Homo sapiens: one gene and its partners. The protein of the gene in region 2 purifies or fractionates together with the protein of the main gene of each other region. This does not show direct contact. Each region holds a gene or a part of one and is shown on either strand. Other genes may lie near its edges.

Evidence for each region. Proteins that work in one complex are often made in the same cells at the same time.
Region 1: the proteins of STX18 (region 2) and NBAS purify together in Homo sapiens (co-immunoprecipitation; 7 studies listed by BioGRID and IntAct, with this or other methods). This does not show direct contact.
Region 3: the proteins of STX18 (region 2) and SCFD1 purify together in Homo sapiens (affinity purification with mass spectrometry; 7 studies listed by BioGRID and IntAct, with this or other methods). This does not show direct contact.

The regions. Positions count from the first base shown.
Region 1 is NC_000002.12:15,551,318-15,558,349, reverse strand, and holds part of NBAS (NBAS subunit of NRZ tethering complex), read left to right. Parts: intron 1-1,530; coding exon 1,531-1,567; intron 1,568-4,211; coding exon 4,212-4,289; intron 4,290-4,876; coding exon 4,877-4,924; intron 4,925-6,813; coding exon 6,814-6,857; intron 6,858-7,032. UniProt on the Homo sapiens protein: Involved in Golgi-to-endoplasmic reticulum (ER) retrograde transport; the function is proposed to depend on its association in the NRZ complex which is believed to play a role in SNARE assembly at the ER. Required for normal embryonic development.
Region 2 is NC_000004.12:4,532,040-4,539,071, forward strand, and holds part of STX18 (syntaxin-18), read right to left. Parts: intron 1-7,032. UniProt on the Homo sapiens protein: Syntaxin that may be involved in targeting and fusion of Golgi-derived retrograde transport vesicles with the ER.
Region 3 is NC_000014.9:30,730,304-30,736,367, reverse strand, and holds the end of SCFD1 (sec1 family domain-containing protein 1), read right to left. Parts: intron 1,579-6,064; coding exon 1,510-1,578; intron 783-1,509; coding exon 759-782; 3' UTR 518-758; downstream 1-517. UniProt on the Homo sapiens protein: Plays a role in SNARE-pin assembly and Golgi-to-ER retrograde transport via its interaction with COG4. Involved in vesicular transport between the endoplasmic reticulum and the Golgi.

The sequences.
Region 1 (7,032 bases), on a different chromosome or scaffold from region 2:
ATTATGGATGTATTCTAGAACAGGTGTCCTCAATTCCTGGGCCATGGACTGGTACCAGTCTGTGGTCTGTTAGGAAACAGGCTGCATAGCAGGAGGTGAGCGATGGGTGAGTGAGCATTACCACCTGAGCTCCACTTCCTGTCAGATAAGCGGCAGCATTAGATTATCAGGGAAGTGCAAACCCTATTGTGAACTGCACGTGTGAGGGATCTAGGTTGCATGGAAAAATTGTCTTCCACAAAACCAGTCCCTGGTGCCAAAAAGGTTGGGGGACGCTGTTCTAGAAGGAATGAAGGTCAAAGCCAGTATGAGTCTCAGAAAGTCAGTGGATGTTGAAGGTGAAAATACACTGAGAGACTATTTTAAGAGGTCTATGTGGTGTTTCAGATAGATCTGGTCAGAGATACTCAAATTACAGATTTGATAAGCCAGGGTATTCATTTAACTCCTGACAAATTTTACGTATGAACTAACAAGAGTCTGAGAAAGGATTGAGCACTAGGTTTACTGAGCTGGTGCCATGACGGGTTTACCATATTCATTAATAGAGTCCTTTTATCAGACCAGAAAGGTGCCGTTACTCCTTTATGATTTTAGATAAGAAAACTTGCTCAAGGTCATTCATTTGGAATTTGACTGCATGTCTTTCTGGCTTCAAAGTCCATCCTTATACCAGTGAATTTAAGTTCCTTATAAAGAGAAAATTCATTTTCACAGAAGTTAAGTACTTGAAATTAACTGTAATCTTCTGATTATCCTTTTATCTTCTGATAAAATTACAGTTAATTATAGTTAATTTTATCTTCTGATACAAGAAGCACTAGCATATTCAGTTTTCATAATGACAAATGCTTTTAAATTTTGAGAATTTAGAAAATGTGTACAAATAATAAAAATTCATTGTAGAAAATACAGACACTATAGATAACTACAAATTAGAAAAAAATTTGTCCTCATACCACCTAGAGAGAATCTGTTATTCTTTAGATATTTTTCCATTGATATATACCTAACTGCATACACAGGTACACACATACATGTACATTTAGGATGATAGAAAGCATTGTTTTTTATAGCGTGTTAGAGGTTTTGTTTTCCGTGGGCTTTCCCATTTTAGGTATTACTGTTTTAAAAATCTTTGCTATAAAGTGTAAAATATATCTTGCTTTAATTTTTTATACAAATATTTTGGTTTCTAAGGGGTGATTATTATAACTTCTAGTCCATGGTTTCATGAAAGCTTCTTAGATTAAATTTAACATCTCAAACTGCTTTTATTTCTTGAACAGTTAGGAAATACTTGAAACTTTTGAATAACACACAAACATGGAATTTAATAAGTATATGACCCTGTAAATGTTACAGTGTATATTAGGTTATATTTAGTCTCTCATTTTAAGACTTGAGTTCTTTATTTTTTTTAATGACTCGCTCTGTAGTATATTTTAGATTTCTCATCTATAAATCTAATTTGAAAATGATTCTTAACAGCTGATTTATATTTGGCTTTGCCATTTCTTTTGATTACAGATCGTTTATTATTTTTACGCCAATACATCTGGTACAGGTGAGTCTTCGGTTCTTCAGAGAAACAGTATGAACATCAAATATAAACAATATTGTTCTATATATGATTTGTTTTCATAATTGAATTCTAGATCATGATAAAGTTGCTGACATTCAGGCAAACTCAGTATGAGACATTTCAAACATTTAGGTAGAATCTGACAAGATATCTCAGTAGACTTAGGGTAGTTTTTGTTCCCTTAGTTACTATTAAGAATGTCTCATGACAATTTCTGCTTCCTCTGATGACTATTCTCAGGCTTATCTTGAATGTCCATATGAAGCATCTGTAGCCTGCATATCTTTTAAAATACATTTTTGTTCTTGTCATGTCATCTCACTTGTGGTTAATATTCAACTGCTGTATATCAGAGAAGGTTCTTTAGGTTTCAGTTCTTGTATATTTTTTAATTCCTTGAGTGTTAAGTATATTTGCAGGGATGATGCTAATTTCCAGCTTTAGAAAGAACAAAGAAATTATTATTATGACAAAAAAGTTATAATTCTGCTTTTAGATACATGTGTAGGAATTGTTTTATAGAATTATTTACATAGATTGCTTCTTCGTTGAGGATATCTTGTCGTAAAGTTCCAGAGATAATATAGTTCCATAAAAGAGACCTTTGGCGTTCTCTAGGACTTGCTCCAACGTCTTTCTGCTTTTACTCTATGTATGTGTGTGTGTATGTGCATACATGTATATATGTATGCATATTTACAATTTCTATACTTAATTGTGTCACTTTTTTTGTGGGTGTGGGATATGATAGGATAGAGCAATGAGTAGGAAGAGAGAGTGGAAGGAGAGGATAGGAGTGTGGGAGGTGGGCTGTGTTTTCTGACTTCTCTAGGCGACAGCTTGTTAGTCCTGAACACCCTTGGATGAGGTGTCAAGCTTGTCTTGTTCAGGTTGCTGCTTGATAATTCTTTTTTTTATTTATTGAGAAGGAAGACTCAAAAAGTTAACTCTGCTACAAGCCCTGTCCTCTGTGTGAGAACCTTATGATCAGGCATCAGAAGTAGGTATCTTTTTGTCTCCCTTCCTCCTGAGAAGCCTTTTTCCTTGAATCATTGTACAGGTTGCAAATGCACCATTAAGTGATTCATCTGTCTCATGATATGCTGCTTTCAAAAAGATTATAGTTCAATTTGTGCTCTTGAGTTTATGGTAATTAAACCCAAAGGTTTTGGGGTCAGTATTTGTTTCAAGTGACTTTTTCTTCTTTTTTTAAAAAAGTTCTTTTAATTATGAAATATAAACATACTGAGAATTATTGACAATATAATAAACCTGTATCAGCTAGCTCTTTTTGTTTTTATGCAAAATGTTACATCTCAAGTCCTTTCCCTTTTTCTTTTCCCTTCCCTTCTAGAGGAAATTATCATCCTCATATAGGTAGTATTCACATACATGTTTTGTATCTTCATTATATTTTTGTAACTGTCTTTTGATATTATTTTGTGTTTTAAAAAATGAGCGTAAATGTACTACATGTATATTACTAATTTTTTTTTTTTTTTTAAGAGAGGGTCTTATTGTGTTGGTCAGGCTGGAGTATAGTGGCTATTCACAGGCAAGATCATGGTACACTGTAGCTTTAAACTCCTGTGCTCAAGCAATCCTCCTGCCTTAGCCTCCCGTGTAGCTGCGACTATAGGCACATACCATTGTGCCTGGCCACTAACATTTTGGAATCCTATTTTGTGTTTTCTGATTTCCATAATTTATTTTTTTTCTATTTCATGAAATTATGTTCTTTATTCTTCTTTTCCATCTGTTTTCTTGATTTCTTCGGGTATTAATCCTCTAATTTGCTGTGTCTGCTTACTCACTTATGATGAGTAGTTTCGTGTCTTTTGTGAATGGTTTTATTTTGAACTTATGCTTGCAGATTCTTGCATCACATGAGTAAAGTGAAATTGTAATCTGATCTTACATATAGTACAGACTTGGACTTTTACTTTTTCATAGGAGATTTTATTCTTATCCTCCACAGAACCATAGTTCCAGGGAGAGAAGAGAGTCTTTAGTCTCCCTGGGCCTATGGTGAGGTGTTTCTAGTTCTTTCAATGACCTGGTGCAGTCATTTGAGCATCCTGGCCTTTGCAGGAGTCTCACTTCCAACTCCTGTCCTCTCTTTGGTTCAGTAGCTCATTTCCTATCTCGTGTGCTAAGTCCTGTTTTGAGTTCTTATCTCTCTCTTTACCCTGTGCCCAATTCTAGCTTTCAGTGACTTTTTCATTTCTAGTACTTGGAAATTTATCTTTCTTTCTTGTGAGTTTAACTCTATGCTAGAATTTGTTTTTGTTACAGTTGAGCCAGAGTTCCTAGGTAGTTAGAGCAGAAAGGGTTGGTATAAGTGTACTCTGCTCTGTGATTGGTATGCTAGATGTCTGTTACCTGGGAAGTACATAACATTTATACCTTTGAACACATCACTGTGTTTTTTGGAAATAGAGAAATATATATGGTCAAATTTCAGCTACCAAATAGTAACTTTGGGTTTTGGGTTTGCTAATATTCAAATTTTATATTCTAATGGAAAAAAATCTGTGTCTCTCTCTATAAGTATATGTGCTATTTGTCTGCATATATGTGGTTTTCATGATTAGATTTTAAGCTAACTAATGTGTTGTGATTTCAGCCCGGCACCTTTTTTGCTCCCTGATGGACTGGTTCGCTTGGTTAATAAACAGATAAACTGGCATTTGGTACTTGCAAGGTAAGGAAGTGTGAAATTCAATGTTTTTCTGTCTGGATTAGCTTTTACATTTCATTATGGACGTTAATTTTGGAATGCTTGTGGCTTTCAGTCTTGATTTTTATTGTGTGTAAATTTCTTTGTTGCAAATATTTAGTATTGTTTAAACTTTTTAGAGAGAGAGGGAAAGAGAGAGAGGGAGAGAGAGAGGGAGAGAGGGAGGGAGGGAGAGAGGAAGAGGGAGAGAGGGAGAGAGAGAGGGAGAGAGGGAGGGAGGGAGAGAGGGAGGGAGGGAGAGAGAGAAAGAGGGAGGGAGGTAAAGAGAAGGAGAGGGAGAGAGAGTGGGAGGGAGCGAGGGGGAGAGAGGGAGAGAGATGGGGAGAGTGGGGGAGAGAGAGCTTAAACATGTTAATTCATGCTGTATTAAATCATTTTGTGTGCTTTTGTACCTGTATCCTCATCTAATTGTAAGGTCAAAAGATGGATAATTAAAGCATGTGAACAAATTTAAAAATGATTTTTAACTTATTAAATAATTCCATCTGTGCTGAAAACTGCTATAGATATTCATAATAGATTTTCTTCCCCCTCTTTCTTCTCCATAAAAGCAATGGAAAGCTTTTGGCTGCTGTTCAAGATCAGTGTGTGGAAATCAGGTAATTGTTAATATTATTCATATTCAAGATTTCCTTTGAGAAATATTTGTTACTCTATAAATGGAAACTAAGATTTTTATAGGGGATATATTTAAAAGGATTTTATTATTAACTCACTTAATTTTGTGAGTGTCAAACACCAACTTACGCCAGTTAAAAAATTAAGGATGCTTTCTCAGAGTTATATGCTTATCTTTCTCCTTCCCCAGATCATTCCGTTGCCTCTTAAGAAGTTTTACTTTCTCAGTAAATGAGGCCTATCCTCCAGAACTCTGGAAATCACTGTTGTGTGACTATTTACTGCTATATTAGCTAAACAGAAACTCAGGAAGGTGTAAAAGAGTAGGGATGGTTCAGCACTTTGGGAGGCCGAGGCGGGCAGATCACAAGGTCAAGAGATTGAGACCATCCTGGCCAACGTGGTGAAACCCCGTCTCTACTGAAAATACAAAAATTAGCTGGGCATGGTGGCGCACACCTGTAATCCCAGCTATTCGGGAGGCTGAGGCAGGAGAACTGCTTGAACCTGGGAGGCAGTGAGCTGAGAACTAGTTGCAGTGAGCCGAGATTGTGCCACTGCACTCCAGCCTGGCGACAGAGCGAGACTCTGTCTCAAAAAAAAAAAAAAAAAATAGGTATGCTTTTTCTCTGTTGGTACAAAACTGTAGATGGAATATGAGTGTGCAAATGACCTAGGTTACGTATTACTTGAGACCAATTATGCTGTCTGTCCTCTTGAGACATTCAGTGGTATTATATACACATCTAAAAGACATCTCTAAGCTGGACTTTTCAGGTGTTTTATTTTTAAACAGTATATCAGTTATGAAAGAAATAGCAACAATAGCAACTGAGAAAAATGAGTTCATTCTTTGGGAAATGTTATTAGGAAAATCATATGGAAGAGGAATATATTTACTGTTCATTAAGTGGAAGTGGACCATTACAAAGGTCTTCATTATCGTCATCTTCACATGGAGTGGGCTGAGGAGGAGGAGGAGGAAGAGAAGGTGGTCTTGCCATCTCAGAGTGGTAGAGGTAGAAGAAAATCCACATAGACATGGACCTGCATAGTTGAAACCTGTGTTGTTCAAGGGTCGACTATAGTAATTCCATAATATTTCATTGGGTGCACATAGCAAAGTTTAATCTCTTTATACTGGGTATTATTTTTCTCCTTTATAAATGAGACCATACCAGTTTTTTTGATATCTGTATGTATCTGTAATTATTTCCTGGGGATAACTTTATAGAAATAGAATTGTTAGGTCAAATGCTACAGACATGAAGGTTTTGGATAATTGTTATTAAATTATTTTCTAGAAGGTTTACCAGTTTTCATTTTTAAACATATTTTATAATAATTATTCTACTTGGTATATATTTCAGGATCACAGATTTAAAATAGGTTGTTGATTTAAATATGGTGACCTATTAAGGCTGTTTGATTTCTCAAAATAAGACTTTTTCCCCTAAGTGATCAAACTTTGTAATATGATACAGACCAGTGGTTCTTAATTAGGAATGATGTATCCAGCAAAAAAATATTTTTGCTTGGGCCCCATCCCACATTTCTTGATTCAGAACCTTTGGGGATGGGGACCAGACATCTCTATTGTATGAAAAGACCACGGTAAATTCACTTAGGCTGTGTCACTATATTCCATATATATGTCTCCATAACGATGTAGCTCCGTATCTGATGCAATAAGGTTGGAAGAAAATATTGTCACTGACAAAAGGGTCATAATTGAGCCACAAAACCATGTCTGAGAGGAGATATGATTGAGCATTGTATATAGAGGCTGTCTAGTCCACAGTATCTGGTATTTTATGGTTCTATACAGTGTTACGATAAAACTTTTGCCTTGATTTTGCATGTTTTACAGGTCTGCAAAAGATGATTTTACATCCATTATTGGGAAATGTCAAGGTAAGAGTTTCCAAAATATTTAAAGAATGAAAATTTCAAATGCGCAATGGTTTCCAATGTTTCTTAAAAGTTAGAATAGATATTAAATATTTATTAACAAGGATTATCATGACTATTAAAATAATTTTTAAAAACTGCTTTTTTTTTTTTTTACTGTCTTAAATATTTTGCTTTA
Region 2 (7,032 bases):
CTGGTGGTAAGAGCAATACATACTGATATTTAAAAATTTCCAAAATACATTGTTTTCTACAATACTGTTATGTAACCCCTCTCTACTCCCCCAAGGAAGAGGGGAGGGCATATGGAGAGGGATTACATAACCGTATTGTAGAAGAATCTTGATTTTATTTAACAGAAAAAATGTTTGGAAAGTTAAACACCAGAATTTTAACTATGGCTATTTCCTGACACTGGTACTAAATGTGAACTATTTTCTTCTTTATTCTGTTTAATGAGCACTTACTAATTTTATAATCAGATTTTAAAATAGTCAACTTCAAAAATGTGCCCTGCTAATAAAATTCCATTATAAAATTATATCACCACTTTTAAATCAAATACATTTGTGAAAACACACCAAAAATGCTAACTTTGAAAACAACAACAACAACAACAAACCAAAACAAAAAAAAAACCTCACTCTTTCAGAGACTCAGGGAAAATATCACAAGGTAATGGGCAGTTATCACTGCAAAAAGTATTTAAAAATACATCCTGGGACTTTCAGATAAAGAGTACTGAGTCATGCAACCATCTCATTGAAAAGGTCCTTATGGATTATCTAGTCAAAACCTCTCATTAAAAAAATCAGAAGAGTGACACCCAGAGAGGTTAGGTGAGTTCTCCAAGATCACATAGTAAGCTATTGGCAAAGGCCAAAAGTATTTACAATTCGAAACGTACACTTTTTAATTCCTTTCTCAATTCCTCTGAGTTAAGATATGCTGTAGCCTGTTACTTCTGCTAAGACTATAGAATTCACTGCTGGAGAAAATGTCCAAGAAAAGGCAAGTGTTCATTTCACCAGAGTTTTCTTATCATTTGACTACAAATTAGATAGAAATGTTACAATATTGTGAAATGGAAGTGTCTCTCTCTTGGTTAAATACAGCTTACAAATTCCATGGTAAGAACATTTTGACAAACAGACATATGTTAGATGGTGATAAGTAGAAGCTGGCAAACTTTAGTATTCATAGTCTTTGAGGATCTGAAAGTCTGTAACAAAGAAAAAAGTATTGCCGGGTTTAAAATTTCAACTGTGCTGCAAGCTTTCCATATCTGAGTTATTGGGTTCATTCAATATATCATACTTTCATTCCTCTGGTTTATTCACTTTCTTTTAGAGGAGTTTTGAAGTTGCCTCTTTTTAAGTCAATATTAAATGTAATACGCTTTAAACATAAAATGGTTTTCATACCATAAGCCATAATTAACATGTGTAGACTTCACTGATACTTTACCCACCAGAGGGAGTCCATGTGGATTTCCATGTAGTAAGAGACGTCAAACATCAAGTTTACATGAATTCAACAACCACATTATTCATAATACAATCAATATTATAAAATCACTCAATAATATATTTCTATCCCCTGAAAAAGAGAAAAATTAAATGAGATCGGGCACATAAAGTCCTTAACCGAGTTCCTGACCTATAGCAGAAGCTCAAAAATGACTGAGTTTCCAAAATCTGTATTCTTCTGCACATTAGTTACAGTGCTTACAACAAATTAACTGGTATTCTGACTTACACACAAGTTGACGTGAGCTTGGCTGATATCTGCCCTAACAGATGGCTCTAGCCTCAATATGTAGAAAAATCTGGTTCTTGGGCCTCCAAAATGAAGCCAGCCCCTGATGGGAAGAATTCACTAAAAACGTCACACTGAGAAGACGTGTTTCTGCAGCCCTACCCTAGTAGGTGAGACACATAATAATTGGTCAACTGCCAACTCAAAAGTGAGGAAAGAGGGAACTCTTTGACACACTCCAGATTCTTCATGGAATGCAGGAGAAAATGAATCAACTATCCCTGAGAATCATGCTTCTACAACATGTGATATAATCATTAACCCCAAGATGAGTTTCATTCAAGAATAAAGAAAGCAGAACTGAGAATAACAGGAGAGAACCTGGCATCCACACGGGCCATCCTAAGTTTCTACCTCCTTGTACTTCTCGCCACCATAAGTCCCAGCCTAGTGATGGCCGTATTGCTGAGACAGGTCTCAATCTCCATGCAACTGGCTGGGCATAGGTACATAGGCACTGGGTATCTATTTTGTACTCAACTGTCTCCAAGGTCTAAATGTGGCAAAGCTGAAGGACCCCATTGAGTTCCTCAATCCAGGTTTATCAGTAAGCACTGCTGCTGGGGAGTTATCCACCACATGCTGTCTTAATAAAACTCCAGTGTCCATGGGCTCCTTGGATCTATTCTCTACTATTTAGAATTAAGAAGAAGGCATGAATAACTGGCACTCAACTCTAACCCTGAAAACTCTGTTATTGTAATCTTCTACCATTTAACTTTTCAACCAGAAAGCTGGAAATTATTCTACCTCCTCCTCTTTCTATTTCCACTAATTAGTTACTAAGTTTTACTAAGTTTGTTGAGCCTACCTACTAAATACTAAATACCTACTTCATCTATTTTTCTCCCATCCAACCCTACTGTCACCGGCTCCTCAGTTTCACCTGAATTACTGCAACAGCATCCTGCTTAGCTCTCCATGTCAGTCTTGTTACATTCCAAACCCATCATCAACACTGCGGATTAGTTTAAAATACAAACATGATCCTTTCGTGCCTCTGCCGCATAGCCCAGAGCATAAAGTACAAACTCCTCAGCACTGCTAACAACGCTCTCATCTAAGAGTTGGCAAACTTTTTCTCTAAAGGGTCATACAGTAAATATTTTAAGTTTTGCAGGCCTCTGCAGGCTATCGCTCTGCTGCTACAGCATGAAAGCATTCTTGGCCTATATTTAAACAAATGAAAATGACATATTCCAATAAAACTTTATTTACACAACTAGGCAGTGGGCCGGATTTGGCCTGTGGGCCAGTTTGTGGACCCCTGCTCTAACCTACTTCAGTACAACCTCACCCCCTGACACTCTGACCCTCACCCGGGCCTCCTCCAGAAAAGGGCTCTAGTCACACCAGTCTTGCCTCTGGCCCCAAACTGCCCTACTGTTGTGTGCCACTGCCTTTGCTCACACCCATCCCTTCTACCTACGTCTGGTGGAATGGTTTTTCTCCTTAAAAGCCAAGTTTGATGATCACTTTGAGGTTTCCACTGATTCTCCCCTAAAGAGATTTAGGTATCCTTTATCTATCTTTTCAAAGAACAGGTTAATATGCCTCATAGTTTTTTTATGGCCCCACAATGCCTGACACACCAGATGTTCAGTGTTTATTGGATGATGGTATAAATCAATTATTGAATAAATACATTTCAAAACTTACAGTCCTCCTAAGTCTTGGGCAAAATTCAGAAGTGTAATCCACACAAAGGACTCACAATCTCATGAAAACTCTGCAGTGCTGAGCTCTCCTTATAGTACACACTCAGTTATTGCAATCCATAAAAACACAGCATCATGAAGCTAAAACAGGCCCTGGAGAGCATTAAAGCAGTGGTTTTTAAACTGTGTGTCTCTGGGCCCTCTGGTTGGTTCCTAGGGGTTCCTCAAGGAGAGGGGGAAGGTAACAGAAGGGTAGTAGGCTGGCGAATGAACCTCTCTCCCCAAACCTCTCACTCCAGCTTTTACCAAAGCTGCTCCTTATTTCATTAGCTAAAAGGTTCCTGCCATATTTAAAAAGAAATCTATATGATTCAGCACACTCATGCTCTGTTCACAGCTTGCATTCTAAACCTCCATTGTTTCCCAATCCTACTTCTGTATGGTTTGGCCCTATCTCCTGTCCTTCCTGCCTCTCATGGACTCACTGTACCTGTTGCATGATACTGCTTCTTTGAATCATGCTCCCTCAACTGAAATCCCCTAACTATGATTATACTCAACCCTTAGGTAAAATTTATAATCCAGGTGGTCCCAGCTCAACCTTTGGGTCCCAACACTGGCACAGAAAGTCAACACTGCCTCTGAAAAGGAAATCAAGGAGGACCTGGGGAATCAATGCTAAAAAAGTTACAGTTGTTACTCATACCTGAGTTGTTGTGCTACCTGTGTCTGCTTTTCCACTAGAATGTAAATGTGTTGAGGGAGGAACGGAATCTTAGTAATAAAAGCTACTATTTACTGAATGTTTACTCTTAATACCGGACTAAGTATAAATGTGCATCATGTAATATTCAAGAATCATGTGAGTATCACAGAGCTTTAGAACTGCAATGAGCCTTGGACAGAGATCACCTAGCCCCAAAACTGAGAGAGACAGTAGATTAACAGTTATTCATTAATTCAAGAAGTATTTATTAAGCACCTGCATCCCCACACTGTTCTAGAAGCTACAGATTCAGTGCTAACAACACAAAGTTCTTCATTTTCAGAAAACATATATTCGAGTAGACAAACAACAAATAAATGGATATATGATCTGCTAGGGGAAGGGACAGAAAAAGGAGGCCACTTTACGCAGGGCATTCAAGGAAGGCCTCACGGAGGCAACATTTAACCAGAGACCTGAGGAACTGAGAGATCAAGCCATATGGAATCTAGGAGAAAAGTGTTCCAGGTAGAGGGATGCAAAGGTTCTAAGCGGGAAATGTGCCTGATGCATGTGAGAAAATGAAAGAGGCCAGAATAGCTGGAGTAGAGTGAGCAAAAGGAGGGGGAGAGGAGGTGAGGCCAGAGAGGGAGCAGGGCCAGATCATCTGGCTTTGGGCCACTCCAAGAACTCTGAATTTCAGCCAAAGATTCAAGATAATCAATTCCTAAAAATAAGTAAATAAAAAACGAAGTTTAGCTTCCACAAAAGAATGTATTATCAAGAACAAAATCTCATCTGCATGCCTAATCTGAAAATAGAGTTCCCAGCAATTCAGGATCATTATTACCTTATTTAGAATCAAAGTGTCCTTATTCTACAAGAAATCTCTGCAGTTATCTAATCGAAGCTTTCAGTTTTACTAATGTGGAAACTGAGGCCCAGAGAAATCACATGAGCAGCCCACTTACTGGCAGACCTGCGGCTAGAACATGGGTTCCTGCTTTCCTGTGCGGTGCTCTTCAGTAGCCCCTGCTGCCTCTGCACAGCAGTTCGGTGCTTACGGGTTTCTTGCTTACCTGTGTGGTAGCCCCCCCTGGCTCCTGTAACCTTTATAAGTCAGTAAGAGAATAGAAGAGCTGCCACTATGAGGCATCTCTAGGCCTATCCTCACCCCAGAACCTGTCATTATAAACTCCTGCATTTTCTAGTTTCTCATTCCCCACAGAGTTGAAGACAGCCAGGCAGGCAAGGTGAAGGCACATCAGGCACTGTCCCAGGCACTGTGAGGGATGTTTTTGTTGCTTTTGCTTGCCCAACATTCCTTACTCCCTATTCCCAGACAGGGCACTGCCTTTTCCATGATTCTGGTGGGGGCTACATAGCATCCAAGCCACCTATTAACCACAGATTGAGGTGGACATAGACCTGACCAATTAAAGAAACATTCCTCTGGCTATAATGACTACTGTAAGAGAGAGCAGAGGATCAAGCAGAACCAACTAGATTTCCTTCCTGGGCTTTATGGATAAGAGCTAGAGAAAGAAGCTCTATCCCTGAATTTTCCAGTTATATGAGCTAAGGTATTCCCACTTTGTTCAGGTTAATTTACATTAGGTTACTATTACTTGCAAACAAAAGAACTCGGACTCATGTAGGCACCTGCATACCTTTTCTTATTTCACCTAACAACTTTATAAGGTTGCTATTACTCACTCTATTTTAGCCATAAGGTAACTGAAATTAAGTGGCTTCCCCAAGTTCATATAACAGATAAGACACATTCAAATCCAAGTCTTTCTGCCCCAGGTTCCATTCAGTATGCAGTATTCAGAATTAACTCAAGAAGAAGAAACTCACTGCCATTCAGAAACCAAACAAATTCTGGTTTAAAAATTACAGGAGAATGTAGTGGGCAGAGGGAGAGCAGCATTAAACCAGGTCAAAGGACCTGGCTTCTACTTATGGCTCTGTGCTATGACCTCAACTGCTACGACTTTGGGCAAGTAATTTCATTTATTTGGGTGTTAGTTTTCTTATCTATTAACAAAATGAACACAAGGTCCTTTTGAGTGAAAAAAAAAAAAACCACAAACAAACAAACATGGGTCTGCTTTAAGCATACAGATTCTACTGTTACTATATGTCAAGTAGATTTCAACTTGAATGTCAAGCCTAATAACAGGTAACGGCTCCTGGGGTACAATGTTGCAAAGGATTCTGAGCTATAGGGATCCACTAAGAAATTAGCACTGGCTTCCATGATCACAAGGAAGAAAAGAAAGTAAAAGCTGCATACCTGCCACACATCTGCCATCACTGAAAGAGTTTCACCTTGGCAAAGAAATGTTACCATCTTTTACGAATGCAGACAGTACTTCTGCACCACCGCTGATTCATCAGTACCTGCTCAGGATTTTCACTCATTCCTCACGCACTTAACTAAATTAAGGAATGAAAGTGCAAGAAAACTAAGTGGTTTGGAAAATACAGCTTGGTGCCACTAAAGAAAATATGTCTAAATGGCCTACATGAGGAGGGGGGAGGTAGTTTGGGGGAACAATAATAATCAGTCTGTTTTTTTAAAATACATACATATAGACTATGTGAGTAGGGTAACTCAGAAGCTACCCTACTTAGCTTGTGAGTTAAGTAGGGTATTATCACGTCCACTTTATAGAAATGGAAAACGAGAGTCAGACTTGCCCAAGTTCACCCATTTCTAAGTAGCAGAAGCGAGATTTGAACCCAAGGCCCAGGTCTCTTTCCAATCCCATCATCCTCACTAGTCCCACACTTCAAATGAGTTAACTAATCAAATTCCCATTGCAGAGTGACATATTCATTATTATTTGGAGTTGTTCGAATAATATAAGTTCCTCCCCCAAATAATCTGAAAAGTCGTTACTCTCCATTTGTAATTTAATGGGTAGACATGCATTTGAGTATATATAAATTTAGTAAAATTGAGCATAAAAGTTAAATGTTTAAAAGAATGATGCAGAAGCAATCAGCCTGTTGTTGGAAGGTAGGGACTGCAATAA
Region 3 (6,064 bases), on a different chromosome or scaffold from region 2:
ACATTACAGATTCCTGTTGATATGAGGCTCATTAGGAGGGAAGGCTCCCTGGCCTTTATAATAGGAAGTGTTTATTTTTCTTCCCTTTCAAGCAATTGGCTTGCTTTTTATCTTACAGACGTACTGAACGGTATGACTGATCAATACTTCTTGTCAGTACTGCATACCAAAGAAGCTTGGAATCAAGTTTAACACTAACTTTTACGTATTATTTACAACTTTATGAGATGACTGTTTTGTATTTGTCCATTCCAAATCATGTTAGTGTTGCCTTGATCACCATTACATGAAGGAGGGACTTTATGTGATAAAATATACATAGGTGTGCCAGAAGAAGGGAACTTAAAGTGGCTTAAAATCTCCATCTAAAATCTATAGGCAACATGGATACCCAACAAACTATGAGAAAGTAGTTGTATAATTAAAATGCATACAAGTAGGGGACTCACGAACCAATCAAATAAAATTTAAATATGATAACCTTAAAATGTCACCAGCTTCAATCATAACCTATTAGTTATTATATTAGTACTTTCTGATTTATCAGAGAAAATGAACAATGTTGAAATTTTATTTCTGAAATGTTTCTTTTAATCAATACATATTAAGTATATAATTTCCTTAAAAATTAACAAATAACTCTGATTTTCACTGTTAGGACACTGTTACAGAGAAGGAAACATATTGCTCTTCTAACTTTTCTTCTTTTTACATTTATCCACATTCCAAGTAGATTATCATAGTAAGGTTCTTCTGTGTTACTTTTGTCCAAGTTGTGACAACTAAAACAAAACACAAAATCATACATAAAACTTTTAAAAAAGATCATAAAAGAAACATTCAAACATATTTGTAAACCCCTTAATAAATTACACTTCCTATTTTATTCACTGCATTCCTAGAATAATAAATCTTAATGTTCACCACTAACTCAAATGTTAAAACTGAAGGCTGGTCATGGTGGCTCATGCCTGTAATCCTAGCTATTTGGGAGGCTGAGGTGGGAGGATCACTTGAGGCCAGGAGTTTGAGACCAGCCTTGGCAACATAGCAAGAGACTGTCTCTACCAAGAAAAAGAAAAGAAAATGGAATTGCAATAAACGTCGTCATAGTAAAGAAATGTAAACATTATTAGGTAACGTTCAATTGATGGAAAAGAAAAACCCTGGGAATTAAAAAAATTAGTGCTAACTTTGTGACAATATAAAGAGAAATGTCATGAGTGACACACTACTGACAGTTCTCATATATTTTTGTATTTCTAAAGGATCATTAAAAGCCAAAGAAAAGGCTTTCAGTTCTGGAAGGATGGGCAAACTCCTACTGGAAACATTATTACTTATCAAGGTTTTCTTAGTCGTCCATGAAAACACCTTATCTTGGTATAGCTGGATGGCTTTGGTTTCGGCTGGTTCAGGTGAGTAAGTGGTTTTCTTTCTCTCTTTTGAAAAATACCAATAGCAACTAGGGGTATGTTAACAGAAACAAACAACAAATGTATACTTTACCTGTTTTATGAACTGTGTAGCATTAAAAAGCTCACTGCAGCCATATAAAATGTGTTTGCCTTGTTTCCCCTGTAAAAATCAGAGTCAGAACTTAGATACAAGTAACAAGAAATATATTCAATATTCCCAAGAAAAGAGATTAATATGCTAGTTTTTTTGTTATTCTTAACAGTCTTTCTTTGGGATACTGTTGGATTTTAGTATACACATCTACCTAAAATTGCATGAAATAAAGAGGAATAAAGTGGTGAAATGAGCATAGTATTTTTGTCCCCCAAAATATATACTATGGCATACTATTGGTGCCATTTCCTATTACACTAAAAATAGAAGGAATCTCACTGTCAAATTTCACAGGAGCAACAGTTACCTATAAAATCTTAGAACAACATTCTTCCAATGTAGGATGTGTACTACTTGAAGAATACATTCGAGTTTCTTTATGCTGAAAGTGGGCTATGGTGCAGGTGGCATGGATTGTGCTTTTAGTCTCACTTGAGCAACACAGTATTTATAAGTTAATACATCTCATTCCACATTGTCAACATCAGGAATAAAAGTCACAGTTACAATGTTGGAACCCAATCACAACAGCCAAAACTTCTCTATTAGCGATTTGCTAATTTCTTGTATGTATCGTGAACCTGAAGGTAAATTCATGAGATTTCTTTTGTAATATAAAAAAGTTTATTCTAGAACAAAGTAATTTGAGGATTCATCAAAGGACAGAGGAATGATGGCTTTGTAACACAACTCTGTGATGTATAAGCTGAGCAAATATTGTTGGCTGAATACATGTCCTAGATGGCCATCTCTGAGAATAAATAAAACAAAAGCCACAACTCATATTTTTTTCAAAATGAGATGGTATATGGGTCATATAATTGGGATTCTTGTGGCTAACAGGCATTAATTAAAGGTAGAGGTCACAGTATGCAAGGAGAAAGCAGGCACAGGGAAACATTAGAGGGGTCCAGAACTTCTAGGCATAGCTCCCAGGAGAACCTGATTCTTGTTCAAGGAGAGGTCTTTTATGCCTCTCTGGTCAGGTAGGCAAAATTGGGCTGCATGACCAGCATGACCAGGCTCAACTGCAGAAACCAAGGGAACATGACAGAAACCAGGTGAAAAATGTAAAATCAATCTTTACATTTTCTATTAAACAATGCTGGCAAGCCAGCCCAAGGTTGCCCCCTGGTTTATCGTAGTCTCTAGCCCAGGCCCAGAATTCATCACTAGTTAATACTTCATTCAGGTTTGGCTAAACATCAGCACCATGGATCCTGGTATTCTTGGAGATAAGCACAGGGGTACAGTAGCCCAGTTGAGATTAATCCTGACTTGTACAGTCCCCACCCTGGACCAAGCTTTCTTAACCAAATTACTCATCATCATTCTTTTCTAATCGTTTTTAGCCATCCAATGAAGTGTAGGTGTAATTTTAAAGAAACACTGTAGTTTACCAAACATTCCAGTGCAAACTTGTTCTTAATCATGTACAAGCTTGATGACCCCTTTACTTACTCTGTCAGTTAAAAATTGAACTTTATGGGCTGGGCGCAGTGGCTCATGCCTGTAATCTCAGCACTTTGGGAGGCCGAGGCAAGTGGATCACAAGGTCAGGAGTTCGAGACCAGCCTGGCCAGCATGGTGAAACCCCATCTCTACTAAAAATACAAAAATTAGCCAGGTGTGGTGGCGCATGCCTGTAATCCCAGCTACCCAGGAGGCTAAGGCAGGAGAACTGATTGATTGAACTCGGGAGGCAGAGGTTGCAGTGAGCCAAGACTGCGCCACTGCACTCCAGCCTGGGTGAGAGAATGAGACTCTGTCTCAAAAAAAAAAAAAGAAAAAAAAATCGAACTTTATAAAATGTACCAGTATATTGATTCAATGTAAAATTAACTCAGTGTAGTTCTTTCTCTAACCAATCACCTTCCATCAAGAGAATACCTTGTGGTTTTAAGTCAAGTTCCCAATTCATCAATATTAGTATTATCAAATGTTTTGATAAAATCAGTCAAATTATTTTTTACCAATTATACCAAAGTTATACCAAATAGCATTTACATTGTGAGTTAGATTAACAACATTACTAAATAAATCAGAATTACAGCAGTATTTTCTGGCACTTGCCCCTTATGTTGTGGACTAGTATAAACCAAGGGCCATGTTAGTTAATTCTGTATTGCCAGTCTCATGTAGGCATAGTCGCATGTTTAGTTTCATACTACGAGACTGTACTGACACAGGTTTCTAATGATGTGAGGAAGGCTGTCATAGACCTAGCTCAGTTCCTTCTTAATAGGGCTGAATGGTAGGGAAAAGATTAGGATTATTCAGGACAAAAAAACTAAAAGGGATTTAAAAATCCTCTCAGGACAATAAACTGGGGAGCTTAGTAGCTACTAAAAATTTAATGGATCTAAAGGGCATCTATGAATAATGTAATAAAATATATAATGGTCAAAGACTAGATGCTTTGCCCGTATGATGAGAAAGAAGACAAGGATGTCTGCTCTTGCCTCTTCTATTCAACAATGTACTGAAGGTTCTAGCCAGGGCAGTTGCAGAAGATAGAAAAGAAGCAAAACTATCTCTATTAATAGATAACATGATCTTGTATATAGAAACTTCTAAAAATCCATTAAAAACAATTGGAACTAATAAACTCAGCAAGGCTGTGAAACGTAAGATCAACATAAAAATCGGTTGGATTTTTATGCACTTGGAATGAGGAATCCAAAAATGAACTTAAGAAAATGCCTTTTGTCTTTGACAAAATTCAACAGCCCTTCATGCTAAAAACTCTCAATGAATTAGGTATTGATGGGACGTATCTCAAAATAATAAGAGCTATTTATGACAAGCCCACAGCCAATATCATACTGAATGGGCAAAAACTGGAAGCATTCCCTTTGAAAACTGGCACAAGACAGGGATGCCCTCTCTCACCTCTCCTATTCAACATAGTGTTGGAAGTTCTGGCCAGGGCAATCAGGCAGGAGAAAGAAATACAGGGTATTCAATTAGGAAAAGAGGAAGTCAAATTGTCCCTGTTTGCAGATGACATGATTGTATATCTAGAAAACCCCATTATCTCAGCCCAAAATCTCCTTAAGCAGATAAGCAACTTCAGCAAAGTCTCAGGATACAAAAATCAATGTGCAAAAATCACAAGCATTCCCAAACATCAATAATAGACAAACAGAGAGCCAAATCATGAGTGAACTCCCATTCACAATTGCTTCAAAGAGAATAAAATACCTAGGAATCCAACTTACAAGGGATGTGAAGGACCTCTTCAAGGAGAACTACAAACCACTGCTCAACGAAGTAAAAGAGGACACAAACAAATGGAAGAACATTCCATGCCCATGGATAGGAAGAATCAATTATCCTGAAAATGGCCATACTGCCCAAGGTAATTTATAGATTCAATGCCATCCCCATCAAGCTACCAATGACTTTCTTCACAGAATTGGAAAAAACTACTTTAAAGTTCATATGGAACCAAAAAAGAGCCTGCATTGCCAAGTCAATCCTAAGCAAAAAGAACAAAGCTGGAGGCATCACACTACCTGACTTCAAACTATACTACAAGGCTACAGTAACCAAAACAGCATGGTACTGGTACCAAAACAGAGATATAGACCAGTGGAACAGAACAGAGCCCTCAGATATAATACCACACATCTACAACCATCTGATCTTTGACAAACCTGACAAAAACAAGAAATGGGGAATGGGTTCCCTATTTAATAAATGGTGCTGGGAAAACTGGCTAGCCATATGTAGAAAGCTGAAACTGGATCCCTTCCTTACACCCTATACAAAAATTAATTCAAGATGGATTAAAGACTTAAATGTTAGACCTAAAACCATAAAAACCCTAGAAGAAAACCTAGGCAATACCATTCAGGACATAGACATGGGCAAGGACTTCATGTCTAAAACACCAAAAGCAATGGCAACAAAAGCCAAAATTGACAAATGGGATCTAACTAAACTAAGGAGCTTCTGCACAGCAAAAGAAACTACCATCAGAGTGAACAGGCAACCTAAAGAATGGGAGAAAATTTTTGCAATCTACTCATCTGACAAAGGGCTAATATCCAGAATCTACAAAGAACTCAACTTTACAAGAAAAAAGCAACCCCATCAAAAAGTGGGCGAAGGATATGAACAGATACTTCTAAAAAGAAGACATTTATGCAGCCAACAGACACATGAAAAAGTGCTCATCATCACTGGCCATCAGAGAAATGCAAATCAAAACCACAATGAGATACATCTCACACCAGTTAGAATGGCAATCATTAAAAAGTCAGGGAACAACAGGTGCTGGAGAGGATGTGGAGAAATAGGAACACTTTTACACTGTTGGTGGGACTGTAAACTAGTTCAACCATTGGGGAAGACAGTGTGGCGATTCCTCAAGGATGTAGAACTAGAAATACCATTTGACCCAGCCATCCCATTACTGGGTATATACCCAAAGGATTATAAATCATGCTGCTATAAAGACACATGCACAGGTATGTTTATTGCGGCA